Linked DNA regions of Homo sapiens. The protein of the gene in region 2 interacts with the protein of the main gene of each other region in a biochemical or structural test. Each region holds a gene or a part of one and is shown on either strand. Other genes may lie near its edges.

The links.
Region 1: of the proteins of EGLN2 (region 2) and PRKCA, one has a biochemical effect on the other in vitro, tested with the Homo sapiens proteins (one study listed by BioGRID).
Region 3: the proteins of EGLN2 (region 2) and HIF1A form a complex in vitro, tested with the Homo sapiens proteins (3 studies listed by BioGRID, with this or other methods).
Region 4: the proteins of EGLN2 (region 2) and EPAS1 form a complex in vitro, tested with the Homo sapiens proteins (one study listed by BioGRID).

The regions. Positions count from the first base shown.
Region 1 is NC_000017.11:66,298,337-66,305,624, reverse strand, and holds the start of PRKCA (protein kinase C alpha type), read right to left. Parts: upstream 3,013-7,288; 5' UTR 2,774-3,012; coding exon 2,601-2,773; intron 1-2,600. UniProt on the Homo sapiens protein: Calcium-activated, phospholipid- and diacylglycerol (DAG)-dependent serine/threonine-protein kinase that is involved in positive and negative regulation of cell proliferation, apoptosis, differentiation, migration and adhesion, tumorigenesis, cardiac hypertrophy, angiogenesis, platelet function and inflammation, by directly phosphorylating targets such as RAF1, BCL2, CSPG4, TNNT2/CTNT, or activating signaling cascade involving MAPK1/3 (ERK1/2) and RAP1GAP.
Region 2 is NC_000019.10:40,794,427-40,802,191, forward strand, and holds the start of EGLN2 (prolyl hydroxylase EGLN2), read left to right. Parts: upstream 1-4,764; 5' UTR 4,765-4,836; intron 4,837-5,095; exon of another isoform or gene 5,096-5,212; intron 5,213-5,912; 5' UTR 5,913-6,146; coding exon 6,147-6,989; intron 6,990-7,765. UniProt on the Homo sapiens protein: Prolyl hydroxylase that mediates hydroxylation of proline residues in target proteins, such as ATF4, IKBKB, CEP192 and HIF1A. Target proteins are preferentially recognized via a LXXLAP motif.
Region 3 is NC_000014.9:61,691,194-61,698,513, reverse strand, and holds the start of HIF1A (hypoxia-inducible factor 1-alpha), read right to left. Parts: upstream 3,002-7,320; 5' UTR 2,710-3,001; coding exon 2,675-2,709; intron 803-2,674; exon of another isoform or gene 664-802; coding exon of another isoform or gene 560-663; intron 1-559.
Region 4 is NC_000002.12:46,377,407-46,384,426, reverse strand, and holds part of EPAS1 (endothelial PAS domain-containing protein 1), read right to left. Parts: intron 6,534-7,020; coding exon 6,340-6,533; intron 5,771-6,339; coding exon 5,660-5,770; intron 4,201-5,659; coding exon 3,710-4,200; intron 2,832-3,709; coding exon 2,705-2,831; intron 2,453-2,704; coding exon 2,338-2,452; intron 2,003-2,337; coding exon 1,829-2,002; intron 1-1,828.

The DNA.
Region 1 (7,288 bases), on a different chromosome or scaffold from region 2:
AAACGGCATCACTTTTAACATTTAATGTTGGCTTAAGAAACCAGATCTTAGAAAATATAATTCCTATTGTTTGCATTTGAGATGACCACGATCTAATTTCTACTGAGAACCAATAGCATTCAAAGCACATAGGGAGGCTATTTTGTTCTTGTACATGACTTTAGAGAATTTACTCTGTAAGCAGAGAACCCTGACGTGGACGTTCAATTGCAGGTATTGTTCTACCAGAATGAACTGCATTAAAATTTCTTCGGAAGGTTGAGAGTCATAATCTCTTGCTTCACATAGAATGTTTCATGTACAAAGTATTTCACATACTTTTAAAATTAACTTAGAGTCATCCCCCCTACTAAAAACCATATCTAACTCTAAACATTTCGCTTAAAAATATCAGTGATTTAATATTGAAATAAACGTGTAAATCAAGGACCCCGTAGAAGCAATAATGAAAGCAAACTGAAAAAGACAATCCCCGTGGATGGTTTCCTGGGACTTCCAATTGGTTGGTTTACAATTAAATGCAGAGTGCTGCAGGGATCCTCAGGGGGGCATTTTCCACTTCACAATACTGGTGGTGACCTGAGCGCCTCTTCAGCTCACCAGGGGCTGATCCTTCAAGGGCAACTGATAGTGGAAAGACAATAGCTAGCCTCAGTATGCTGCAAGTCCCTTTCTAACTCTCCTACTTCCTGCAAAAGTCACCAGCAGTCTGTTCCCTTTTAATGGACTCTCACAGCTGACCTCCTCTTAACCAAATGCAATATTCTCTTTGCCCTGATGCTCCGAAATTTTTATTTTAAATAGCCTTATCTACGACTACCTACTCCTTTGAGCACAGTCGCTTCATATGCCGACTAGACAGTGGAAATCACTCATAGAGGTGGCTGTGCTTTTCATAAAAGTGTACTTGGGAGCAGATGTCTAAAAAGGAAAGGAAAAATTAAACACCTTATTCGCACCACGATCATGGGACCTGCCCTTTGGGATGTTTTTCCCCAGGTGTGATGGATTCCGACAGAGCCATCCATACTATGCTCACCCTAGTGGCCCAAGATACCTGTGCCACACAGCTGGCTGGTGGCAGGATTCACTCCGTGACTGCCACCCTGTGCAGCTCCCCCTGGCCTAGAAGGAGAGGGAGCTAAGAAGCCCTAGCCATAGCTCTGTCTTGCCCGGAACTTCCTACACCACAAAGAAGAGGTAGAAGAGTCAGGACGTCGGGCAACTTAAAAGAAAAACCAAACTACTGCTGCTCTAACTAGAGGACCTAGAGCTCCTTTAGTTCCAGCTTTCAAAACTTTTGTGTGGTGACGGGGATCTGGGAAGAAGGGTCACACACCTTTTGAGGATCAGATGAAAGCTGTAATTCTCTCACCAGGAAAAAGATTCACAAACACAATTTCCCTCAGTTTTACAGGGTTCAGAGACCCCTGAAGCCCTTCTATGTATCGATTCTCCATAAGCCCCCAGGGACCCTCCGAGTTAAGAATGCCTGAATTCATTGGCGATTACCTGATCTCTGACCTCTGGCCCTTATATTATTTTTCTTAAATAAGGCCTCTGCCCTCATCAACAGGGTTACAGGTCTAATCTCGAGTTGACAGGGTCTGTTTCATTTTTTTTGAGACGGAATCTCGCTCTGTCTCACCCAGGCTGGAGTGCAGTGGCCCGATCTCGGCTCACTGCAGCCTCCGCCTCCCGGGTTCAAGCGAGTCTCCCGTCTCAGCCTCCCGAGTAGCTGGGATTACAGGCGTGTGCCACCACGCCCGGCTAATTTTGTATTTTTAGTAGACGGGGTTTCACCATGTTTGCCAGGCTGGTCTCGAACTACTGACCTTAGGTGATCCGCCTGCCTCGGCCTCCCAAAGTGCTGGGATTACAGGCGTGAGCCACCGCGCCTGGCCGACAGGGTCTATTTTAAATGAGTCCCTCTGCCCTTGTGCCATTTGCCTGCTAGAACTCCCCCTCCCCCACTGCAAGCTTTCAACAGTTTGCTCTCTCTCTCTCTGCTCACTCAGAAAAGTCAGTCTCTCCGTGCCCAGTAGATGCAGCCTACAGTAGGCAGGGGCCCAAGATGCCAGCGCAGTCCAGCCCGATGGGAAGCACAAACACAACCCCCCCACCCCGAACGCGCCCAGCCTGGCTCGCCAGCAACTTGGACCGCGCGCAGTGCAATCGCCGCCGCTCCCCCGTTACTCCGGGGCGCGTTTCTCCGGGAACCTTTGCCCCCTTAGGGCCTCTCCTCCTCCCCTGTCCCCTGGGCTCACACCCCGGCAAGCGGCCGCTCCGCTGGGTGCGTGCGGGTGGGCGCGCCCGGGGAGGTGAGGGGCCCGGCCCGGAGAGGGATCCCCTTCGCCACCGTACGGGGCCAGCCTCCCTCTCGCGCCAGGGGGTGTGTGTGGCGGGACGGCGACGTCCCGGGAGTCCTGCCCGCCGGTGTCAGGGCCGGGCGCGCGTGTCACTCCGGGCGAAGAGTTCGGACTCCCGCCGGTTCCAAGTTATCGGAGTGAGCCAGCCCCGGGGCGGACGCGCCGGAGCGCCGGGTGCCGGGACCCGGAGGCGGGGAGGAGCGGGGCAGGAGTGCCCGGCCCGGCACCTACCAGATGAAGTCGGTGCAGTGGCTGCAGAAGGTGGGCTGCTTGAAGAAGCGCGCGATGAATTTGTGGTCCTTCACCTCGTGCACGTTCTTCTGCCTCAGCGCCCCTTTGCGGGCGAAGCGGTTGGCCACGTCCTGAGACGCCGTGGAGTCGTTGCCCGGGAAAACGTCAGCCATGGTCCCCCCCAACCACCTCTTGCCTCCGCCGGGGAGCTGCGGCCGCGGAGGGCCGGGTGGGCGGGGGCGGCGGGGGAGAGGTGCGGGCTCGGGGCGACCCCGGGCGCGGGGCGCGGGCCGGTGGCCGAGGTCGCGGCGAGGGGGCGCGGCGGGGGCCGGGGAGAGTCGGGCTGGTGCTGCGCGGAGCGGGAGCGGGAGCCGGAGCCGCTGGCTCGCCCGCTGGCCCCAGGCTCACTGACAGCCCGGTGCCCGGCGCTCGCGCTTCCTACTCGCGGCGGCAGAGGCGGCCCGGAGCGGCACCGCCCACCGCGCATGCCCCGAGCGCGAGGCCGCGAGGACGAGCGGCGGGGGCGCGCGGGCCGGGCGCGCGCGGGGGTGCGGCGAGGGTGCGGCGGCGGCGGCGCTGAGCGGACCGGACCGAGTGCGGAGGAGGCAGCGAGTGCCTTGCGGTGCTGGGAACACTGGGCAAGGGGAGGCGGCGGCGGCGGCGGCGGCGGCGGCGGCGGCGGCGGCGGCGGCCGGGGGAGGGCCGGCCCGAGTGGGGATGCGGGGGAGGAGGCCGGGAGTGGCGGGTCCGCGCTCCTCCGCCGCCTTTTTCTTTCCTCCCCTTCCTGCGCCCGGCTCTCCTCCCTCTCGCCCTCCTCCGCCTCAGTTCTCCTCCTCTTCTTCCGCTCTTGCCGCCCGGCCTCCTCCTCTCCCGGTCTTCCTTCTCCCACTCCCGCTCTCTCTCTTGTCGACGGGCTCGGAGTCCTGCGCCACCCGTGCCGGGCCGAGAGGAGCCCGCGTCCGGGAGTGGGCTCCACGCGCAGCCCCTGCCCCGGAGCCTCCCGCCCGGTGCTCACCTCCTAACCCCTCAGCACCCGCAGCAGGGAGCCCCTTCCCCATCCTCAGGACCCCCGGTGTCTCCAGGGCACGACGCCCGTGTTTTAGCTGCCTGTACCAGCTTGAGGTTTCACCTGGCCAAAATGTCACTTTCATCACGTGTGCACTAAAAGACCTAGCCCCTAGACCTTCCTACAGGAGGAAGAGAGCGATTTTTAAATAATTAAGCATTGACCCTTTCCCCTACCTTCTCTTCTTGACCTATACCTTATTTCACCTGCGTGTGGTAGAGACTTTTAATTTGTACGTCGGGCATTTATCACCACGTGGGATGGTTAAAGGACTTGTCTTAGGTATTTATCCCGTTATTCAATGGCCACCAGAGCGACGATGTTGATTATCAGGCTTTCTTGATTTTACAAGTCCAGGACCTTAATTTAGAAATCATTTTGCATCCCAAGCTAATTACTGCAATACTGTCAGGTGCAGAGTGCAGCCAGTACGTTTGTAACTTACCAAGTAAAACTGCCTGTGAAAGAGTAGCGGGCATGGCTATGCAAAGGACGCAGGTGGGGATGCACCAGCTAATCACTCGCTGAATATTTATCAGGTCTGCCTGGAGGCCGCTAAAATACATAAGGGAAATAATCATTTCTCAGCGTTTCATTGGTGTTTTGTTTTATTTGCCAGATTCACGAAATCCCCAAAACGACTTTACGAGCTAAAGAGACCAAGAAAGAGAACACGTTTGATCCTTCAATAAATTTATGTTGAAAAAAAAAACTTTTCTAAAATACTTTCTTAGAGCATGTAACATAGGCCAAGTAGAGCTAATATTGTTTTCTTTGAGATTGCCTAATTGTGATGCTTGATGATAGGAATGTCCTTTATATTTTTAACAAATGGAAGCTCTCCTGACTGGCCGTCAGTGGTGCATGCACTTGACTGATCCATTTACAATCTCTTGAGCCAGTCTTGGTGCTTCAAGAGCCTGCACCTGCCTGGTATTCTAGCTGGTCAGAAATTTCGCCACTCATGGTCGCCCCTCGGGTCCAAGGAGTCAAAAAGGGAAGAAGCAAAGAGGAATGAAGAGCAGGGCATGTTGGGGAAATAGTCCCAATTCTCCATGAAACACTAGAAGCATCTCAAGCCATGGTGGTTTATTGCTTGAAAGCAGAAATCAAATGGAACATAGTGGAATGAAATAATTTCTTTTCTCATAGTCGTCTTTTATCTAAGACGGAGATCCTGGCACATTTTACAAAGACAAGCTTATTTCTATGTCCCTGAGGCTTTCATAGGAGGATGGAGAGAGCTGGAGGGTGAAGTTGCTGATAATGGAATCCTGAGTAAAGTCATAGGAAAGACAAGAACAGAATGAGCCCTGGCAGCAGCCTGCGAATCTCCTGTGTACTCCATGGAGTGACTGTCTTAGCTGTCAGTAGATCAGATGGAACAATGTGTCTGTTTTCTTTTAGGTTGTGGCTTTGCATTCTTGCCTCAGTTGTTAGTGTTGTTCCTGGTGGGTACGAGGAGGAATGATTGACTGGAAGTCAACTGATTCATGGTTGGGCTGGGCATGAAAGCATCAATAGCCCACATCTTAGCTCAGTTGGGGAGAGGGGACTGTGCACCCAGAGTGGGGATTTATCAATTACCAAGCAGTGTAACACTGTCCCTAGCAAGGACTGATGGAAATGTGGGCCAGCATCTACTCCTGCAGCCTACCTGAAGTCCCCATGGTATAACTAAAATGGAGGAGATTAAGGACGGGAGAACCCCCTGGGTTGGGGGTAGTCAGTCAGTCATGAGGGCATGAGTAAATTTTATTTTCGAGTCTGCTATTTCATGGGGAAGGTGCGGGAAAAGAACAGGGAATGTCAGACTGAACGCAGAGTTTTTCAGAATCCGCTTCTGTCCTCTGCCTTTGAGGAGTAAGCTCAACACTGTTTGGAGAGGTGTCACCTAGACCAGGGGGACCCAGAGGCTGGAGGCTGGGATCAAAGTCAGACCACCAAACAGATGACTCAGAATCCCAATGGTTTGAAGCCAGCGGTCTTTCAGATACAATTTACAGCTTGCTGCTCTATGCAGCTAACTGGACTGTTTTCAAATGAACCAGGACATTTTCAAATTGGGCAATAGGAATTGCATAAGTATCGAAAAAGCATCATTCTGAGATTTATGGTAACCAAGATGACTTAAGGCTTATATTTTATTCTATGCACCATATTCAAGGTTTAGGAGAGGCAAGGCAACTGCCGAAATGCGTAAGCAGGCAGCAGTCAGATTCACTGTAACTGGCAGATCTCTAAACAGGTAGAGGTGAGGATCTACCTGAGTAGCAGAACACTAGAGTCAGGGGCCATTTTGGGGTAAGTTTAAGGAGCAGGGTAGTACTGTATAGGAGTGGATGAGTCAGATGCCCCAGTCAGAGGTTAGTTCCAAGGCTTCCAGGTCTGGTCCTGCAGGTTGCTCATAGCACAGGAGCTCCCAGTCAAGAGACTAAGTAGGGGCTAAAACTCAACTCGCATACTCCTTGCCAAGTGTACCTTTGGGCCTCTGTCTTCCCAGAAAAGCCACCATTTTTAAATTCACACCAAGGTACCACATGGGTTAATGAAGGCCCTGGTTGGTTGTGATTACAGTTGATTGATTCCAGTTGGTTGTGTCTCCACTGAAAGAGCTTCTGTGGGCAGCCTCCCTGGAGTTTGAGGCTTGGGGACTTTGCTTCTAAGCAAGCCTTCTTCTAGGATCTCTTTCTGTCTCCTGTATCTCACAGCATCACTAGTCCCTCAATGGCTCAAGTTGAAAACCTAGGCATCATCCTTATTCTTCCCTTGGTCTTACTCCCATATCCAATCCATGAGAAAGTTTAATTGGTGCTTCCTCCAGGACAGATCTCAAATCTATCCACCCCCAACCCTAGCCTAAGCACTATCATCTCTTTCCTGGGCCACTGCAGGACCACTTAATTGGTCTTCCTGCTTTCGTTCTTGCCCTTCTCAATTTGGACTCCACAAGTAGCCATCTTTTAAAAATGTACCTGTTTAAACCCACTTTATGTCTTGAATAAATGGAAAGATATGCCCTGTTCTCATACAGGAAGAGACATTGAAATGTCAGTTTTTCTTAATTAAACCATAAATGTAACTTAGCCCAATGAAAGTAGAATTTTTTTAGAAGTAAACAAGCTAATTCAACAGTCCAAATGAAAAAAAAAGTAGGAATAAATATCCCACCAGATATTAATCAAGAACAAAAAGAATAACAAGCCCAAGAAAAAATAATGGCAAATGTCGTGAACAGATAGTTCTCAGAAAAGGAAATACAAATAGTTCCTATGATAAAATTCTCAACATGTCTCATAAAAAGATAAATGTAAATTAAGATCATATTGAAACCCCACTGTGACCTAAGAGTTGGGCACACATAAAAAGTGTAAGGAACACACTGTTTCATTAAGGGTGTACAGAATCAAATGGTTTCATACATCATTAGCGGGATTGTAAATTGTCGCACACAGACATGATACAGAGCAATTTGGCAATAATTGTCATTTAAAAATGTATCAAACATTTTGATGCATGTACTTTTAAAAGGTTGATACATTTTATAAATGTAATCCTAGCACTTCCACTTCTATAAATGTATCTTGCATATATAAACGCACGTGTACATGAAGGCATATGT
Region 2 (7,765 bases):
TCTATGTTGCCCAGGCTGGTCTTGAACTCCTGGGCCCAAGTGATCCTCTCTTGCCCTTGCCTCCCAAAGTGCTAGGATTATAGGTGTGAGCCACTGTGCCTGCCCAACCAATAGAATATTCTTATTATATATGATGCACTCTGGTATTTGCCGTTCTGTGCTATTCTGTTTGAATTTAAAAATTGGTCAAGACCCACCAAACTGATTTCCCCACCAAGGCAGTGACACACATTAGAATGACCTGGAGAATTTTAAAAGATACTGATGCCCAGGCCTCACCCTAGAGATTCTGAAGTGGTTTCAGGACTTTTTCTTAATTAAAAGATAAATAGAGATGAGGTCTCACTATGTTGCCCAGGCTGGTCTCAAACTCCTGGCCTCAAACGATTTCTCCCACCTTGGCCTCCCAAAGTGCTGGGATTAAAGACGTGTGCCAGGCTGGGCATGGTGGCTCACGCCTGTGATCCCAGCACTTTGGGGGGCTGAGGCAGGCGGATCACAAGGTCAGGAGATGAAGACCATCCTGGCTTGATCTGTAGATCAAGTGAAACCCCGTCTCTACTAAAAATACAAAAAAAAAAAAAAAAAAAAAATTAGCCAGGCGTGGTGGCAAGTGCCTGTAGTTCCAGCTACTCAGGAGGCTGAGGCAGGAGAATGGCGTGAACGCAGGAGGCGGAGCTTGCAGTGAGCCTAGATCGCGCCACTGCACTTCAGCCCAGGCAATAGAGCGAGGCTCCATCTCCAAAAAAAAAAAAAAAAAAAAAAGATGTGAGCCAGCCAGTTGCAGGATTTCTGGAAGCTCCCAGGTAATGCTATATACAACCAAAGTGAGAACCACTAACCTAACGTTGTCTCCCCAGCTTGGGGAACAGTGAAATGAGACTTAGAGCCAGGGTGATCCAGGAACATAGAGGGACACAGAAAGATACAAAGGCAGGTTCATTTTATTTATTTATTTATTTATTTATTTATTTATTTATTTAAATTTTTTGAGATGGAGTGTCCCTCTGTTGCCCGGGCTGGAGTGCAGTGGTGTGATCTTGGCTCACTGCAACCTCCGCCTCCTGGGTTCAAGTGATTCTCCTGCCTCAGCCTCCCAAGTAGCTGGGACTACAGGCACCTACCACCACGCCTGGCTAATTTTTGTATTTTTAGTAGAGACGGGGTTTCACCATTGGCCAGGGCGGTCTGAACTCCTGACCTTGTGATCTGCCTGTCTCGGCCTCCCAAAGTGCTGGGATTACAGGCGTGAGCCACCGTGCCTGGCCGATTTATTTATTTATTTATTTATTTATTTTGAGATGGAGTTTCGCTCTTGTTGCCCAGGTTGGAGTGCAATAGTGCAATGTCAGCTCACCGTAACTTCTGCCTCCTGGGTTTACAAGATTCTCCTGCCTCAGCCTACTGAGTAGCTGGGATTACAGGCATGTGCCACCACACCTGGCTAATTTTGTATTTTTAGTGGAGATGAGGTTTCTCCATGTTGGTCAGGCTGGTCTGGAACTCCCGACTTCAGGTGATCTGCCCGCCTCGGCCTCCCAAAGTGCTGGGATTACAGGCATGAGCCACCGCGCCCGGCCTATTTATTTTTTTGAGACAGTCTCACTCTGTTGCCTAGGCTGGAGTGCAGTGGCACAATCTTGGCTCACTGCAATCTCCACCTCTCAGGCTCAAGCGATGTTCCCACCTCAGCCCCCCAGGTAGCTGGGACTACTGGTGCATGCCACTACACCTGGCTAATGTTTGTATGTTTTTGTAGAGACGGGGTTTCGTGGTGTTGCCTAAGCTGGTCTCAAACTCCTGGGCTCAAGCATTCCTCCTGCCTTGGCTTCCCACAGTGCTGGGATTACAGGCGTGAGCCACTGCGTCCATCCAGATTCATGATATTTAGATGTTGAAATGTGGCTTTACAGACTCAGACAGCTCTCTGAGGCAAACAAAGAGGGAGATGCAGGTACCCTCAGCACAAGCCCCAAATTACCTGCAGGGGAGAGGCGGAAAATCAGACAATGTAGAAACCGGGAGAAGAAAGGTATGGACAGACCGATGCAGATAGGAGGGGAAGGAAATACCTGGAAATGAGATAGAGACCGGCTGGACAGACCCCGGGGACCCTGCAGGTCACCACACCCTTCTCTTTCAGCTCACCTGTTCTCCAGGACCAGCCCTGCTGGGGCCCAGGCCCAGGCTCTGAGAGGCCGTGTCCTAACCTGCCCTGGCCCCGGAGAAGCTACGTTGCCACCTGTCCCCCTTCCCTGGCCTGGTGGGGCCTGGCTTTGGGGCAAGACTGAGCCACGGGGGAAGGGGGAATCCCGTACCTGCTGCTGCTTCCTCTGTCTTGGCTAACGTCTGTCCCCCTGAACCCCTAACCATACCCCAAGAGCTCCCAAAGCCTGAGACCAGGGTCATTTGTCCCCAACTCCCCATCTGGCCCTGCTGTTGCTAGTACCTGTTATTTATTACCTGGAGGCCTGTCCAGCACCCACCCTACCCCCATAAAGCATTGTTTACACCTGTGTCTTGGCCTCCATTATTGTGAGATGGCAGGGAGATGGAAGAGGTCCCTGATGGAAGAATCATGTGTCATGGTGTTTGGGGGCCTTGTTTCTGTTTTTTTGTTGTTGTTGTTGAGATGGAGTTTCCTTCTTGTTGCCCAGGCTGGAGTGCAGTGGCGTGATCTTGGCTCACCACAACCTCCACCTCCCGGGTTCAAGCTATTCTCCTGCCTCAGCCTCCCGAGTAGCTGGGATTACAGGCATGTGCCACCACACTTGGCTAATTTTGTATTTTTAGTAGAGATGGAGTTTCTCCATGTTGGTCAAGGTTGGTCTCGAACTCCCAACCTCAGGTGATTCGCCCGCGCTGGCCTCCCAAAGTGCTGGAATTACAGGTGTGAGCCACTGGGCCTGGCCTTGGGGGCCTTGTTTCCTGATTGGACGTGGTGTGGGGTATACCAAGCATGATGACTCAGGTGCCTGTTGCGGAGGGAGGGAATTTGTTACTGTGTGGACAGTTTGTGACAATCTGTGTTCTAAGCTCACGTGTGTAAACACGCTGATGTCCCTGTGTTTGTGACATGTGTACATGTTTCCAGTACCTGCATATGGGATGATGTCTATAGGATATAATGTGTGCTGGTTGTGTGTGATGCTGACAGCCGTAACTGCTCTGTGGCCTTGGTCATTGTATTGGTGAGGCTGGTATTGTTTGGGACATCAAGGCCAGGGGATGGGAATTTGGACCTATAGGTGGGCCTCCGGTGTGTGCATGTCTGATGCCTGAGAGTCAGAGGCAGTGACTCACTACTGCGTGTGTGCCTGTGCATGTGTACCCCGAGGTCTGTGTGTGTTTTGGTGTGAATTTGGCTCCTTTTAAACACCCATGTGTGGCCAGGCGTGGTGGCTCATGCCTGTAATCCCAGCACTTCGGGAGGCCAAGGCAGATGGATCACTTGAGCCCAGGAGTTGGAGACTATAGCCTGGGCAACACAGAGAGACCCTATCTACAAAAATAAAAAACAGAAAAAGTTAGCCAGGTGTCGTGGTACACACCTGAAGTCCCAGCTATTCCGGAGGCTGAGGTGTGAGGATCACTTTAGTTGGGAGGTTGGGCCTGCAGTGAACTATGATCATGCCACAGCACTTCAGCCTGGGCAAAAGGGTAAGACCCCATCTCAAAAACAAAACTAAACTAGAAACACCCTTGTGTGGCCATGAACCCTGTGTGTGCCCTGAGGACTGCGGGCTTTTGTGCAATCCTCACGCATGTGTGGATACCAGTATGCATGCCCTTGTGCTCACGCGAACCGCCCTACGCCCTCAGGTGGCCTGCAGGGGACTGGTGCAGCCCCGAGGACACTCCCAGTTGCTCGTCGCCCTCCCATCTCCACGTCGGCCTTCACCGACCCGGCGGGAGCCTTGAGTCCCAGCTCTCCAGAGCAATGGTGGAGCGGGCAGGGCATTCAAAATGACCTTATCTCCTTAGTCTCCTAAAGTGTTCCCAGCTGGCCATGCAAATGTCTTCTCTGTGTAGCGTTCCGTGGATTTTTTTTTGTTTCATTTTTTAATTTTGTGTAAAGATAAGGTCTCACTCCGTTGCCCAGACTTTCCCTGGTTCTTTATTCTGATTCCCACAATCGTCCCGAGGGGGCAGGCCGGAGCGGGTCTTGAAAATACACATTTGCACATCCCTTCTAGTCCGCGTTCCCTTTTCTCAAGGGCAACCCGCACTTTTTTGCCTCCGTTATAAAAGATACTTATGTAAATTACTGACGTGCGAATTTACATACATTTCTCAACTAACTGCGTAGCCATTTCTCCGTCTCTCACCTCCGTTCCTGGACGGCGAGAAGGAGGAGGAGCTGACCATGTAAATGAAGTCACGCGCACCGCGCTGCCGAACTCGGTGCCCCGCGCTGGGCGGGGGGCGGGTAGGCCTGTCCATGTAAATCACATCATTTGCGTGCCCCGCCCCGCCGACGCCACTTGATTCCAACATGCAAGAAACGCCCCCTCCCAGACCCGGCCCCTCACACTGCGTTCCCCCTCCCGCGCAAAGGGGGCGGGGCGGAGGATGCAAATGAACCTCGTGTAGGCCACGGACCGCTGTTTCCTTTCTCCTTGGTAGGGGGGTTGTCCCGAACTTCCTCGCCCCGCTCCGCCCCGCCCCGCGCGGCTCGGGCCTGCGCAGGCGCCGTCCCCTCCGCGGGGCGCGGTCACGTGCCCACCGGGCGAGGCGGGGCGGGGCGTCGCGCGCGGTGGGGGCGGGGTATGGCGCGCTGTGCGGCGCAGGGCGGCTGGCACAAACGGCGGCGCCGGGGCCGGAGGAAAAAGCTCGGTGAGGAGGTCGCGGGGCGAGAAGGGAGCGGGAGGAGACTAAGCCGGAGCCGGGGCGCCGGCGCGAACCGGGCGGGGTGTGGGGGCGCGCGCCGGGGCCTGCCGGGGCGACCCCGGGAAGGGGGATGTGGGTGCGGCGCGGGGGAGGGGACGCGCGCCGGTTACGTTGGGTGCCGGCCGTTGTGGGGGTTGGGGTGGGGGCGGGGAGCGCGCGCCGGGCGGAGGCCGAGTGGAGGGGGAGGGGAGGGGGTCCGAGCGGCCCTTAGGCCCTGCCCCTGTCGCCTACTGCGCTCAGAAGGGGCCTCAGGGCCTGCCCCGGGTTGGGGGCGTTGGGGTGCCCTGGATGGGGGCACCTTTATCTCTCGTCCTGTCTCCGGGTGCGTGCACCCTCCTCCGTCCTTTCCTCTGTCGCCGCGGACCCTCTCCCCGAGGGCCCCTCCCGTCGGTCAGTCTCGGGACCTCCCTTCCGTCTGGGCGTGTGTCCGCCCCCGGCCGGCTTCCTCCCGTCGGGCTCGGGTCGACCCCACCGTCCCGCTCCGCCCCGGGTCCTCCCTCCCAGCTTCCCTCCGGTCTATTTTTCTGTCTCTGGGCCCCTCGTTCTCTTTGTTTTTGGACTCCCCAGTTTCCTCTGTCTTTTGACCCCCCCGCCCCCACCCTGACTCTCCCTGGAACCCCCACGTTTCTCGTTGTCTTTCTGGAACGCCGAGGCAGGTCCCTCCTATTTTCCAAACCCCCTCCTTTCCCACTCCTCCACACCACCCTTTTCTACTCCAGCCCTCCTTCTTCTGTCTTTGGTTACCGCGTCCCACAACCTGCACCACAGTCCTCTGTCTTAGGGTCATCTACCCAGCCCCTGGCCTCCAGCCTCTCCCTATCACTGCCTCTTATCTGTCAGCGGACTCCCGCACCTCCAGATTCTCAGGGTCCTCTCCCCGACTTGGCCTCAGGTTTTGGGGGGCCTCTATAGTCAAGTCTGTCCTGGTCGTCTTCCCCACTCCTGCCCATACCATCCCGGCTTTCCCCTGCCTGCCTGTCTCTAGTTTCTCTCACATCCCTTTTTTTTTTTCCTTTCTCTAGCCACCCTGAAGGGTCCCTTCCCAAGCCCTTAGGGACCGCAGAGGACTTGGGGACCAGCAAGCAACCCCCAGGGCACGAGAAGAGCTCTTGCTGTCTGCCCTGCCTCACCCTGCCCCACGCCAGGCCCGGTGGCCCCCAGCTGCATCAAGTGGAGGCGGAGGAGGAGGCGGAGGAGGGTGGCACCATGGGCCCGGGCGGTGCCCTCCATGCCCGGGGGATGAAGACACTGCTGCCATGGACAGCCCGTGCCAGCCGCAGCCCCTAAGTCAGGCTCTCCCTCAGTTACCAGGGTCTTCGTCAGAGCCCTTGGAGCCTGAGCCTGGCCGGGCCAGGATGGGAGTGGAGAGTTACCTGCCCTGTCCCCTGCTCCCCTCCTACCACTGTCCAGGAGTGCCTAGTGAGGCCTCGGCAGGGAGTGGGACCCCCAGAGCCACAGCCACCTCTACCACTGCCAGCCCTCTTCGGGACGGTTTTGGCGGGCAGGATGGTGGTGAGCTGCGGCCGCTGCAGAGTGAAGGCGCTGCAGCGCTGGTCACCAAGGGGTGCCAGCGATTGGCAGCCCAGGGCGCACGGCCTGAGGCCCCCAAACGGAAATGGGCCGAGGATGGTGGGGATGCCCCTTCACCCAGCAAACGGCCCTGGGCCAGGCAAGAGAACCAGGAGGCAGAGCGGGAGGGTGGCATGAGCTGCAGCTGCAGCAGTGGCAGTGGTGAGGCCAGTGCTGGGCTGATGGAGGAGGCGCTGCCCTCTGCGCCCGAGCGCCTGGCCCTGGACTATATCGTGCCCTGCATGCGGTACTACGGCATCTGCGTCAAGGACAGCTTCCTGGGGGCAGCACTGGGCGGTCGCGTGCTGGCCGAGGTGGAGGCCCTCAAACGGGGTGGGCGCCTGCGAGACGGGCAGCTAGTGAGCCAGAGGGCGATCCCGCCGCGCAGCATCCGTGGGGACCAGATTGCCTGGGTGGAAGGCCATGAACCAGGCTGTCGAAGCATTGGTGCCCTCATGGCCCATGTGGACGCCGTCATCCGCCACTGCGCAGGGCGGCTGGGCAGCTATGTCATCAACGGGCGCACCAAGGTAAGGCTAGGTGGGGGCCTCTTTGGAGGGGCTTTGCAGCACCCTGGTTTGCAGCATTCAGTGCTCTGAGCACAGTGGGTTTGGAGACAGGCTTCTGGGAGGTCACAGAAGGTTTAGGCAGTTCAGTGGAGTGGGTATGCTTACTTGTGGGGACTTGGGGGGGTCTTTATCCTCCCTACGGGCCTTAATGTGTGCACCTGATAAGCTAGGAGTTTGTCCTGGAGCCACAGTGGTTCTTTTTTTTTTTTTTTTTTTTTTCTTTTCTTTTTTTATTGATCATTCTTGGGTGTTTCTCGCAGAGGGGGATTTGGCAGGGTCACAGGACAATAGTGGAGGGAAGGTCAGCAGATAAACAAGTGAACAGAGGTCTCTGGTTTTCCTAGGCAGAGGACCCTGCGGCCTTCTGCGTGTTTGTGTCCCTGGGTACTTGAGATTAGGGAGTGGTGATGACTCTTAACGAGCATGCTGCCTTCAAGCATCGCCACAGTGGTTCTTGACTTTGCCAGGAACCCTCTTAAACTCATGAGAGCTGCTGACATTCACAGCGTGGACCTTGGTGGGGTTCATGGCCTCCTGGTGTCAGTCTGTGGCCCCAGACCAAGCACGGGGATGTAGATAGGCACACAGTTCACCTGGCCGTTCTCTGTTGCTGTCTGTCCCTGTCCACATCCTTCCCTGTGCTCCTGTCGTCCATCCCTGTTTGCTGGCCCATGTTTCTAGTCCATCCATCCTGTCTCCAAGGCAGGAGAAGCAGAAGGGGGAGGGTGGCTGTGATG
Region 3 (7,320 bases), on a different chromosome or scaffold from region 2:
ACACAGTGTCATCAAGACTCCTGCAATGGGCTAAGTGCTTCACAAGCATTATCTCATTTAACCTTTACAATAACTGCTCAGATGGCTGCTATTCTTATCATCATTTCAAAAGGAGGAAAGAGGCTCAGAGGCATTCAGTAACTTGCTCAAGCTCACAAGTGAAGGGCTGGGACCCTTAACTCAGAGGTATCTGCCTCTAGATCCTATGCTCTTAACCACCATATGCTGCTTCCTCAAACAAAAGGACAATCAAAATAGAATCATAAGGAGAAAAGTTTGCTAATAAATGAGAGAGCTTCTTGACTTTTAATGGCCAAAGTTAATGAAGGAAATTAAGGAATATCTATTCTCAGAAATTTTACTTTAATGATTCAGTAATTATTTGTTTTGGAAAACTCTGAAGGAGTCTGGCCTGAAGCCTGAAACAGAATCATTACTCTCTTGACATTCCCTTAAAAATCTAAAAATCAAAATGCACGTGCTATTAAATAAGTTCAGCCCCTATAACTAGGAACAACATGAAATGTCCTGCGTTAAATCTACAGTATCATAACCATACCCATTTTCTATTCTGATTTCTTCCAATTCTTCAGGTTTTGAGTTTCCTAGACCTTCTTTTAAAAAGACAAATTTGTTTTCCAAACTCCGACATTGGGAGCTCATTTAAAATGAAAAAAAAAATTGCTTGAAGAAAATCTCCGTCCCTCAACCTCTCAGTTATCTTTCAAAAAACTGTAAATTAGTTAGAAAAGGTCATCTATTATAAACAGCATCTAAAAGTGCTGAGTAACCACCACTTATTAAGTGTTTAACTTAATTTTTCAGTTATATCAAGAACTTCTATACTAAGAAATATGAATCCATCCAATCCAAGGTTGCCAAGTTTTCAAATGAGAAAATTTTGAAAGTAACAGATGGGCTGAGGAAAATCTAAGAGCTTATTTAGAATTGGGGCTGATGAACAGTAGCTAATTTATTAATTCGTTTCAAAACTGCTTCTGATATTCTGAACGGATGAATGGCAAAACAATGAGTTCGATACTGTATATAAAAAAAGTGGTACATAATTTAATGCATTGTATTAAGTATGATTCAATATATAATAAGGATAGAAAACTGGCACTACACAGAGGTAATCTGCCTTAGGTTTACAATATAGCAGCTTTATCATTTCATCAAAAGCACTGTAATCACCTCCGCAAAATAAACTGCAATTAATTCCTGGTAACTCTTGGAATTAATCTAGACCTGTTTGCTCACTTTTTGAATTTTATAAGTGACCTTCTCTGCTGTATACAAACTAAGAATTTAATATTCTATTGAAGAAGGACCAGGAGAAGGGATCTACAAAACAGCAGGAATATAAACAAGTTTATCTTCTGCTGATACTGATTAGGGAAATTAATCTCTCTGCCAGAAGAGTGGAAGGATTTAACAGCAAAGCCAGTCTACTAACCAAAACTCTTACTCTAAATCTTCAATTCCTTAAGTGATTTCCTTAAAAGTTAAAATGCCAAAGTGGGCAAAATTGTGTGTGTGTTGGGGGATGGGGGAGTCCGCTCTTAACACCACTGGTCCAACTCACAATTCTTAATCTCTAATGTACCCCTTAGACTCAAACTTCAAGGTGATTTATAAAACTTGCATTAAGTTCTAACCGAGTGATTACTTACTTTAGATATATGTTGACGGTTTTCCTTTAATATACTTCAATTTCAGGAAAATGAGACAGAGTTCGAAAATTTTTGCAACATTTTAGTGCCGCATTTCATTCACTCATCATATACTTTTTTCAGTATCATTAAAACTGCCTAAATTTAACCAGCCCCTACATTTTCATTATTTGAAGAATGAATGAGGCATATATTCATTTATAATATCTGCGTTCTCGTGACAGGTGATATGAACTCAAGTATCCAATTCTGAAGTTCTCTTTAAAATGTTGCCATTTCCCTAAATTCCCATTACTCTGACTCTCAGTCTAGGCAAGTTTTTCAAGGCGATTAAAACGAAACAAAACCTGCACGTGCAAACTAAAAAGTTCGCATCTTAAGGCCATCGCGGCAAATCCCTAATGCACAAAGGCAAAGACACCCGCGACGGCTGGACAACTACAGGACAAGATCGCATCCGACCACGCGAGTCCCTCAGTCGGGAACTCAAGGCCCCAAGTCCACTGGAAAGCCAGGACCAGCGTGCAGGGTCCGCCCCAGGGCCGAGTTTTCAATGGAACTGGAGAGGATGGGGGCGGGAAGGAGCGGAAGCTCCGGGTGCAAACCGCGGCTACCGAGCTGCAGCTCATTTCTCTTCCCGGGGTTTTCAGGCTGGGTAAAGTCCCCTCCGGATGGGGCCACAGAGCAGGCTGGGTTTTTGAGGCGGGTAGGTGGGCGGCGCGAGGCCCCCACGGCCGGCGGGGAGGGCAAGCAGGGCTCAGACCCCGGCCCCTGAAAGCACTTTCGAGGCGTCTCCCACCCCCCACGACAAGATGGCGACGTGGACAGCGGGGGAGCCCGGCCGGCGAGGTTGGGGGAAGAGAGGGGAGGGGAGCAGCAGCAGAAACAAAAAGGCTGCCCCCCCCAATCCCATTAACGCCGAGGCCGGCCCAGGAGCCCAGGGCGGGCAGGCGGGCGGGGTCGCCGGGGGAGAAGGCGGCGGGCCGAGGGAATGGGCTTACTTTTTCTTGTCGTTCGCGCCGCCGGCGCCCTCCATGGTGAATCGGTCCCCGCGATGTCTTCACGGCGGGCGGCCCCCAGGCTCGCTCCGGCCTAAGCGCTGGCTCCCTCCACACGCGGAGAAGAGAAGGAAAGGCAAGTCCAGAGGTGGGGGTGCGAGGCGGGAAACCCCTCGTGAGACTAGAGAGAAGCGGGCGGCAATCGCCGGGGTCCGGGCCCGGCTCCGAGCCTCTCCTCAGGTGGCTTGTCAGGGCCCAGCCCGACACACTGGCCGAAGCGACGAAGAGGGTGATCCTCCTGTCCCCTCAGACGAGGCAGCACTGTGCACTGAGGAGCTGAGGCAGCGTCAGGGGGCGGGCAAGGGCGGAGGCGCGCTCGGGCGCGCGGGGAGGGGAGAGGGGGCGGGAGCGCGCCCGCTCGCCTGCCCAGGCCGGCGCGCGCTCCCGCAAGCCCGCCTCACCTGAGGTGGAGGCGGGTTCCTCGAGATCCAATGGCGAGCGACGCAGGCGGCAAGTCCCCACCCCAGCCCACGCCGCTCTCAGCCAATCAGGAGGCGGTCAGCTGAGGCACAGCTGGGACGGGCTGCGACGCTCACGTGCTCGTCTGTGTTTAGCGGCGGAGGAAAGAGAAAGGAGATGGGGGTGCGGCTCAGCCCGAGTCTGGGGACTCTGCGCCTTCTCCGAAGGAAGGCGGTGCCCGGCTTTGGGAGGCGCTGCTGAGAAGGGATTTCGGTTGCCTGGTCCCAAACATGCATCATATTTTCCTACTCTTGGTGCAGTAATGTAATGCTCCTGCTCTCTTTCTCCTCGGCCTCAGTGCTGGGCACGATTGCCGCCCAACTCTGCTGGGCTCTCTGTTCAAAAAAGCAGACTTCGCCTCGTGGCAGCAAGCCCTTCCTTTGGTCTCGTTGCTCAGATGTGTTACAACGGGGTCTTTCCTTACCAGATTACCTAACCATGGGTCAATGTCACCCACCGCACTCTTTGCCACGGAGCACAGGGGAACTCACCTTGTCTACTAAGTTTTTCTGTGGCGGAGTTTACTTACTGAATAAATGCAATTAAAAATAAAAATGAACTCCTGTTGCTGTAAACTTCAAGGGAAATAAAGTTGCAGGGAAATCTTAAAATCTGAAACTATGTTAAGCATTTGCAAATAGGTATAAATGACTTTAATAAGCATATAAACCAATTTCAGGGAAAGAGTAGAAAAAATGGCCTTTGGCAACTTTGCAAGCTACTAAACAAAACATAATCACTTTTGTCTTTGGAGGCATAAACTTCAAGCCTGTCAGTCTTCTAAAAGAAAAATATGTTTTGAGCCCAACAAAGTAGCATTGCACATATATCTCCACTTGGCGCTAAATTATTTTACTTCTCACCTTTGCCTTATGAGTTTCTTGTTAAAACCTAGCTTTGGGTTGTAAATATAAATATCTGTAGTGGCTTTCAATTGTATTAGCATGTAAAAACAATGGTCTATATAGAAGCATCAAACTCTGACAAGACAACAACCAATGTATACAGCACCTCTTTTTAACTGGTCAGTAGACCTACAAAGATACGATTAAACATTGACCTTAGCGGACAGGGTGGTTCCAGCTACTCAGAGGTGTGAGGCTGGAGAAGCCTGGGTGTTCCAGCCTAGGGAACGTAGCGAGACTCCGTCTCTTTAGAAAATTTTTGATCTTCACGCTACTTTTGTTTTTTCAGATCTACAACACTAAATGATATGTATTATGTCTTGAAAAGAACCATGGGAAATGCCTGAAGAGAAGAAAGAACTAAAAATAATTACTCATAATTTCTTTTTTAATTGTGGAAAGAATACTGTAAATTAAAAACTTTTTAGTTTAACATTCTCAAGATACTGTGTTAAGAACACTGGCTCCAGAATCAAGCGTGAGCTTGTACACAGGCTTTGAATCTTACTGGCAAGTCGTTTAATCTCTCCATAACTCAGTTTACTTATTTATAAAATGGATATAAAAGTGTCTATACCACAGTATTATGGATGGTTAAATGAGATAATAAATGTATACTTAGAACAATATCTGGTGCATAGTAAGCACTCAGTAAATGTTAGCTCTTAGTATTGTTGGTGGCGTTATTATTATTATCATTATTATTATTCTGAGGCGGAGTCTCGCTCTGGCCCACAGGCTGGAGCGCAGTGGCGCGATTTCGGCTCACTGCAACTCCGCCTCCCAGGTACAAGTGATTCTCCTGCCTCAGCCTCCCAAGTAGCTGGGATTACAGGCACGCACCACCACACTCGGATAATTTTTCTATTTTTAGTAGAGACGAGGTTTCACCATGTTGGCCAGGCTGCTCTCGAACTCCTGACCTCAGGTGGTCCGCTCGCCTCGGGTTCCCAAAGTGCTGGGATTACAGGCATGAGCCACAGTGCCTGGCCTATCATCATTATTATTGCCCTCAAATTTATTCCTCTGTTAACAGTAATTACTCGGGCTTCTCCTACAGTTTAGCCATTTTTAACTATCCAAGAATACCAATTATGTTAATATAAATCCACATATATTCTCTATTTTCAACTTTGGAACTGCCCATCGTGTTCCCACCCTCATTTATGAGGATAGCTGCAGAGATCTTCCATCATTTCCCTTTTCATTATACTTATAGCAATTATCTCTGGCCAGTGATTATAGTATATAATGTTTGTGACATCAAAAGACAAGCATTTTGTAACAGTAAATCTAAGTCATTTAAAATTTTTTTGGATCATTTCAAAAGTTTAAAGCAGAATGATAATTTGATCAGCAAAAAAATTTTTGAATATTCATTAAATATGCCCTTAAGTTAATTTTCCTTTTCAAAAATGTATAAAATATATGTTTATGTATATGTGTATACACAAATATAAATATGAAAATGGAAAGGAAAGTAGTATATGTGTATATATATATATGTCTATACAAATATAAATATGAACATGGAAAGCAGTAATATTCAACCAACTAATTTTCATATAGTTACAAAGGCACCAAATAGTATCCCCTAATTCAAACAATCCTATTAAATAACAGACACCAAAAAGGAAAATTTCATATAGGATAAAATTTTAAATCCCTCTCTCTACAACCACTTAACAAATGCATTTAGGTTATTACTATGTAAGTATATCTTAACAAACAGTCATTTAATCACTTTCTAACTTTGCAGAACTTTCTGAGTAGACTACAAGATTACTTGCAAATGACCCCATTGACCCTTAGCCCGTATTTATTAGGAAATTGGGCAGTGAATCAGGAGGTTAAGTAAAACTTGAAATTTTGATTACTACTAAATAATACAGAGCATTGAGCCTTTTGAAGGTGAAATGCATCAGATGCACACAATTTATAGGGTATCAAACTATACAAGAAGACCTAGTATTCAGTAAGTGATTCCTGGCCTATTACTACCCTTAGTTGTTTCTTTTTCTTTAAGCTATTCATAACGAGAACAATGGCAGCAAAAGGGTATTGTTTGGAAGGAAAGTGCGTACAAGATAAGAGGCATTAAAAATCTTTGTTTTTTCCTTTCAAGAATCAAGACACAAAGTATCTGTGATTCCAACATTTTGGGAGGCTGAGGCAGGAGGATCACTTGAGGCCAAGAGTTTGAGACCAGCCTGGGCAACAAAGTGAAACTCCCATCTCTACAAAAAATTTTAAAAATTAGCTGGGCTTGGTGGTTAGTGCCTGTAGTCGTAGCTACTCTGAAGGCTAAAGCGGGAGGATCACTTTCTCCCAGGAGTTCGAGGCTGCAGAGATGTACGATTGTGCCACTGCACTCCAGCCTTGACAGAGCAAGACCCTATATCTTAAAAAAAAACACAAAAAACAAACAACAACAAAACCCACACACACAGACACACAAAATAAAATGTATATTTATCTGAGTTTAGGGGGAATATAAACAGACTGAAAATTTGATATTAGCACTTTTCAATTATGATAAATATTTTTAAGATGAATTTACAAAGGAACACCAAGGGGCTTTCAGTTTCCTGTTCAACATGTAAAGAGCTTGGAAGTTGTCACTCCCATCCTCACAACAAGAAAAAAAAAAGCTAAGCAAACTGAAATCAGTAACTCTTCTTAGATCCACCAGAGAATTGAGGTCACAGGAAAAACCACTGCCCTAAAAACTAGAGAGACAGACAGATAGATACAGAGAATCACAGCTTTTCAGAGAATCACAGTTTACCAGGAGCAGAGCCCAGGCACAGAAGCCAGAAGCTGAAGCTAGTTTCACAGCTGGAGCCAACATCAGTAGGAACACTAAACTGTAATTGGGGAATTGCTGGAGGCTCAGTGCAGACTAGCTTGAGAGTTAAAAAACTCCAAGGAGGCTCAGTCTGAGAGGGGCCTCAATACTTACCTCAGTTTTACCTCTGTGAATCCTGTCAGATTCTCACTGTAAAGATCTGAGAAAAATCTGCTTTGCTTTTGCCAGGGAGAAGGGGTAAGTAACCATCGTGAAATACTCTCAGGGCTCTCTGTTCTTCTTAACAAGACCTGGCCTCAAGGGAAACTCTCTATCAGAGCCTAACCAGATGAATCTACCAAAGGCTAACCAATCTGGAGGAAGGGAAATTACCAACTCTGGTCAGCTCTAGCCTTCCACAGGGGAGAAGGGAAATA
Region 4 (7,020 bases), on a different chromosome or scaffold from region 2:
CCAATAGAGCAGCCCTAATTTCACTCTGCTCCTTCAGTGGTGTCTGTCCCACGGCCTGCTGCATGCCCGGGGAACGTGTCTGCCTCCAGAACCACTGCCTCAGGTGGGGTGCTGAGACCCAAGAAAGAGGAAAGCGTGAGGTGCGGGCTGCAGCACAGGTATGTGGAAGCTTCAGGAAGAGCCTGGGGTTGCTGACCCCCATGCCTCCTGGCAGCAGGGAGGAAAGGCTGAACCACCTGGCACCTATGCTCACATACACAGAACATGCAGAACACACACATACATACAGATGCAAACACAGACTGCCTCAAGATTCAACAGTCTGAAAATCCAGTTTCTGGTCACCACCCTCAGCAGTCCTTTCTTCTTGCCTCTGTGCTATTCTCTTGCCGAGGAGGCAGACCAGGGAGTGGCAGGGGGGACACTCGCAGCACACACACAGGCCCCCATCCCAAGGAGGAAAGGCTTAGGTGGCAGCAGAGAGCCTGGAAGCCCTGCATTCTGCCCCTCCGATGGGAGATGCCCACCCACCTTCCCTTATCTGCAGAGCCTCGTTCCAGTGGCCATTGCCTCCTGCACCTCCTAGCTCAGATCCTTGCTGGGGTCCATGCCTGCCTCCCCAGCTTGACTGCTCCTGTGGACAGTATCAATGGATACCTGCTCACCATCCCTTGCTAACTTCTCTTATTCATGGTCAGAAAAGAGTTTGATATGATTCAACTCTTTTGAAAAGAATATGATTTTCCCTTGATTTCAATATTCAAGGTAATTCGTGGGCTTCACATAACAGGAAGAATAGTGCTGGCTACCTCTTACTGCACATAAATATATACCAGCCCCTGAACTCAACAGCAGAGCCAGAATTTAAGCCAGGGCTGTCTGGTGTTTCTACAGCCTGGACTCTGAAGCACAGAACTATAACCTTCCCCAAACTCTATTGCTGAGGAAATTGCCTTTTAGAACAGGGGCCTGGTATGTTTTTCCATAAACCACGAATTATTTTCAGGCCAAACAAACCTCATGAAGACATATATGTTTCACAAGATACTGTCAAGATGAAGGTGGCCCAGGGTTGAAGGCAGGCATTGGTGCCTGCAGTTGAACCAAGTCCAGTGGGGTGGGCCTACCAGAGCTTTCCAGGCTGTTCTACCTGAAGGAAGTTTTGGCATGTTCTCAGCACCTGCCTGAACTCAGAGTGACACCCCAAAACACATCCACATGAAGAACTGAGGAAGGGGCAAGGCTCCGGGATTCTCAGGGTGGAAAGAGCCCTGGATGGCACCTGATCATGGGAGGGTTCTCCCTAAAGCCCCAGGGAAGGAGCACTCCCTTCTCCACGCAGCAAGCTCATCCTTGCATAGACGGGAGATCCCCTGCCTCTGCCCAGACCGCTTCCCAACTCTCTCTCTCTGAACTTTCTCTTCTCTTCTTCAACAGGCCCTCACCACTGTGGCCGCCTGCTCTTTCTTCTGAAAGTGCTCCTGTCAACAGTGGTACAGTGTTCTGGGGGTCGCCAACCCAGTGTTCAGTGTTCAGTCCTCTTTGGGCAGTCGGTAGTGGTCTGCATTCTTTCCTTCAGTATTCTAGCCTGAGTTTGAGTTTTTTAGCTGTGTCTCAGACCCACCCACTGGGGGGCCTGATCACTGATGTCACAAGGAACTTGTGAGGAGGTTCCCTAAATCCAAGGAGACCTGAGCCCTGTATAGGTGACTTCAAGTCAAGCACCTCCCTGTGCCTGGCACTGTGCAGACGCTGGAAAAAAAGTAGACGTGGGCTTCCCCTGGCATCGAATCCTGGGATGGGGGTGACAGATCCTGGGCACACCCACCTGACACCTTGTGGGCTGACGACAGGCTGTAGTCCTGGTACTGGGTGGCGTAGCACTGTGGGGGGAACCTGCTCTTGCTGTTCTCCCCGGGACTGATGGCAGATGGAGGCTGTGGCAGCGGCAGATGTCTCAGGGGATGGCCCAGGCCCCTCATGGGGTTTTGGGTGAACTTATCTGAAAGACCAAAGTCAGAGAGTGACGGTAGCATTGGCCTGAGGGAGGGGAGAGGCCAGGAAGCCCTAGCATCCCTTTCCTTTATAAAAGGTGCTCAGAGTCACCAGAACTACAGCCAACCTTCAGGACCCTCTGATGGCATCATCTAAGTCAGAGTGGAGATGGAAAAGTTGGGTGTGTGGGACTGCGGGAGAGACAGAGGACATCGCCCCATTCTAACAAGGCTCAGAGAGGCAGGTACGGCCTGTGGTGAATGGAAGAACCAGGATGGGCTCCCGAGCCCCAGTCCTTCCACCAGAACCCCCAGGAGGCCCAGGCCTGTGGCCGCTGCTCACCATTGGGTACATTTGCGCTCAGTGGCTTGTCCGGCATCAAAGGGCAGCTCCCACCCCTGAGGTTCTTCATCCGTTTCCACATCAAATGTGAGGTGCTGCCACCAGGTGGGTCCCCCTGGGAGTAAGAAGGGCAGATGGAAAGGGGAAATGGCCAGAGAACCAGGTCCCCAGACTGGGTGGGTTGGGTGGGCCTGGAACAGGGCTGGCACTTGCTGGCTTGGAAGGGCCACATCCCCACCCCTCTCAGCAGCCCTGGGTTCCCTAAGGGCTATGCTGGCTTGGAAGGGCCACATCCCCACCCCTCTCAGCAGCCCTGGGTTCCCTAAGGGCTATGGAGAGGCCCCTGTGGCCAGTGGGGATGACTCACCCCGCTCAGGTCCTGGAAGGCTTGCTCTTCATACTCCAGCTGTCGCTTCAGCTTCAGCTTGTTGGAGAGGGCTACCATGGCCGGACTCAGCACGTCTGGGCCTCGAGCCCCAAAACCCTTTGCAGACCTGCCAAGCCCGAGAGAGCAGGCTATGAGGGAGTCTGGAGCCACATGCCACTCAGTGCCTTCTCATCTTAGGGGCCCTTCCAGTCCCAATGCTGATGCCTGTGATGACTCAAAGACCCAAAAGGCAGAGTCTCAGAGGCAGGCTGTGCACCTGCAGGCCGAGCTCGAGCTCTGTCTCCTTCCTCAGCTATAAGATGCTGAAGGGCTCAAGCCTCCTGGTCTGGGGGATGGCTGCCTGGCTGGGCAATGTTAGTCCTTAGGAGGGTTTCTTCTGCCCATGTCTCTCCTCTGCCTTTTGCTCCCACTGAAAACTAGTTTGGCTGCTCTATAAAGGGCAAGTACCAGCGGCCCCTGGGAGTGGCAGGTCATGTACCAACCCCTGTGCCTTAGCCCAGTGAGCTCGCAGCTGGTGAAATGAGCATGCTGGGGAGATGGGAAGGCATTTCTGGAGCCTAGGCACAGCTGGGAGAGGCTGCAGTGGCGAGGACCCGGGGGCAGCCAAAAGGCAAGGGGAGGCAGGGGTATCTTTTTGCTGTTTTCAACCAGGGAAAATCATCACTCAATTTTCTGTGTGGCTCAGATGATGAACCGAGATACGAAAGGCACTCTGGTGGTGGTCCGAAGGGAGACACTGAGGTACAGGGCTCTCAACAAGCCACTTCTTTGCCTGCCCTCAGTGGCAGCCCAGATAAAAACCCATCCTACACTAGGCCTCACATGGCTTGAGGTGATTCCCCAAAGTCTGAGCTCAGAGAAGGGCTAAATGGGGTATCAGATGGCTGGGGAGAGGGGCAGGGGCCTCCCTGGGGGTCCAGCTATCTTACTAGTGGGTGCCTCTCGGTTCGGCCCTGCTGGTACAGCTGAGTATCTGCCACTTACCTTGTCTTGAAGGTGGAGACATGGGGTGGAGAGACAGGGGGCCCCAACGGCGCTGCTCCCAAGAACTCTGTGCGCTGATCCCCGACGGCCCACTTTGTGGGCCCAAAATGTAATGGTGGATCTGGGGGCCACTGGGTATTGGATCTGCCCCCCATGGAAGAGAGAGGGGTGCTGGCCTGGCCACAGCACGGTGGCAGGGATGCTTTGCTTCCGGCATCAAAGAAGATGGAGGACATGGGCCGGTGCTCGGGCTCTGTCTTCTTGCTCTCCAGCTGCTGCTGAAACTTGTCCAGGAGGAAGGGACTGTGCGGGGCTACAGGGGCCAGTGGCTGGAAGATGTTTGTCATGGCACTGAAGCAGTGCTGGGGGGTGGACTGTGGGTTCTCCGCCAAGAGCCGCTCCTCGGGGCAGATGGGGCTTAGCTGGAAGTCTTCCCCGTCCATGGGGATATAGGGTGCCAGTGTCTCCAAGTCCAGCTCATTGAAATCCGTCTGAGGGGAGACAGCACCGGCAAAGAGGCAAGGGGGTTGGTACGACCTCACAAACACTATTCCAACTCAGCTCCTGCAGAGCCATTCATCTCAAGCACTGTTTCACAGTGCTGCTCAAACGCCTCCACTGGCTCCCGAGGGCCTATCAGGAAAACCTCAGACTTGGCTGTGTCATGTACACGACCTTGTATCATGTACCAGCCTTCCCCCATGTTTATCCCCTCTTCACCCTGCACATTGAGAAATGTTCTCCTCTCCCCATCCCACCTGTCCGGAGCCCGCCTTCTCTCTTGAAGCCGAGGCAGCCCCTCTTCCACAGAGTCAGCCCTGCCTACTCCAGCCTGTGGTGGTTATCCTTGTCCTACAATGCTTAGGCCTGTGGTGCACACTGTGGCTTTTTTTTGTCCTCTTCTCCCTCCTGTAAGCTGGCACGGGCCTAAGCAAGCAGTAAGTGCCCAGGTCCATCTGTGGACTCTCGCAGAGTAACAGCCTAACAGCCAGACCCCAGGGACAGAGACTTTGGTTCCAATCAGCAGATACTCAGATCATCCCTTAGGGTGGCAGTATCATGACGGACGCATGATACAAGCAGGGGAATACAAGCAGATGCGGAAAACAGTTTCTAACTTCAGAGACTGACACCCTCAGTGGGTGTCAGCTGACTAATGACTGCAATACTAAGCAATCTTTAAGGAGCAGAAGCAGATAGCTGTGATTAAGTGCCACATGATATATACTACAGGAGTGCTGAGGAGGGAGGGTGATAGAAAAGCTAAAATTGGGCATGTTTTGCAGAGTAGCTGGGATTTGTGCCAAGTAGGATCAAGAAACAAACTAAGTGGCAAGGCAGAAATCTGGTTGAACTCAAGACTAAGACAAATGGGGGATTAATGGTTTTCCCTGGGGTTTTGTAAAACACGTACCCCTCCCTCTACCTTATCCTTGTTTACATAGTTTTTGCAAGAACATTGGCCTTATGTAATAAATGTGTTCCTGAAAAGTTTTATGTAAATGAAAAATTGTCAAACAGATGTTATTTATTTTAAAGTGCATTTCATATAAAAATGATTATTTTTTTAAAATCACAAGATGAATGTGTTTATAAAGGGATTAATTGTCCCCTATGTTTATACATGTTTTATACATCTGGCTATGCTTGTTAAATGTAGGGCCTGTTTAAAGAAAGGTGCAGTGGTATCATTTCGGTTTTCATGTGTGCTAAGAAAGCTATCTAAGTAGGAGACACATATGCTGGAAGAGCTGGATTTGACAGTGGGAGGAGGGGGTGACCACAGGCTCCATTACCCTGTACCCCTACCTCTTTAGGGGACCTGGGCCTTGGCCAAACGTCTCCACTGCTCTTTACAACAAAGGGATGAGGCTACAAGAATGGATGTGAGCCTTTGCTGTCCACCAGACAGCAGGCACACACCCTAGCCTGATCTCCACAGCCATCTACCTGGGTACTGCATTGGTCCTTGGCCTCTGTGTCCATGGCGAAGAGCTTCTCAATCACTTCAATCTTCAGGTCGTTATCCAAAGATGTGTAATAGTCTTCAGGGCTATTGGGCTAGGGGCCAGGAAGGAGGGGGACAGAGTCAAAGATATGGCACTGGTCTCCCCAGAAGTCCAGCATGGAAGAAGAAATACCTTCCTGGACCCAAAGGTTCAATTCCATTCCACCACACAACTATTTGTAGAGGGGCTGCTAATTAACAAGCTGTATGAATTAGGTCAATTCATCAACCTCTCTAAATTCCAGTCTCCTCATCATAAAATGAGGCTACTGTCGCTTCACAGGTTGTCCTGTCTTGAGGACCAAACAGGATACAGGCTGTGGCCAGCAGGGCTGTGCAAACTGTGCAGCTCTGTGCCACATACGGGATGTTACTGCCCTGTATGGGGACTGAGCTGGGGGCTCAAAGCCCTTCAAGGAGCTTATTTCAATGGAGTTGGGGGATGAACACTAAAAGGAAGAAAACAGCTCTGATACCTGGTAGGTAAGTGTCACGGCCACTCTAGGGGGCTCTGTGATAACCTGAGAAGGACAGTACCTGTCCCAAATGTCCCTTCAGCCATCTGGCAGCAGTCATACATACGGAGCCCTCTCTGTGTCCTCGCCATAAGAGGGCTGCTCACCGTGGAGCAGCTGCTGCTGCTGCTGGTGGCACTGGGGGTGGTGCTGCCCGGGGCAGCTGCCTGGGGCACGGTGAAGGCAGGCAGGCTCCCAGCCTCGCTCTGGGTGCTGTGGCTCCTCAACTCCGTGGCCCATGGCTGGCTCGGGGGCAGGATGGCCTTGCCATAGGCTGAGGACTCCTCGAAGTTCTGATTCCCTGTGGAGACAAGGGCCTGGGAGGTGAACACCCACAACCATCGGGCTCACCCCAAGGCAGAGGAGGCCCAAAAACCGCAGAGAAGGCCCTAAGAGGGTCTGGAAGGCATGCCTGGGGCTAGGCCCCCCCAACACCCTGGGGCTCAGCTGGAACACATGGGTCTTTGACTCTGGCTATGAGTCAACGTAGAGACTCCCTTTAAACGGAACAGTCTCCTGGGACATTTAATTTTCAGAGACTAAATATATTAGGAGCCACTCTTCCCTGAGGAACAGATCCGGAAGGGTAGACAAGGAAGGTATGAGAGGGAGAGGAGAATTGGGCTATTGAGCTATTTGCCTCAGTACTGCCACAAAACAAGCCGCGAGACCTACTGGCCAAGGGCCCGCTGCGTTTCAGATTCTCTTTAGCTGCAATCCTCACGTGGCCGCTGTAGAACCCATCTAAAAGGGGCTGACACAGTCCAGGGTGAGCACCACTCTTCCGG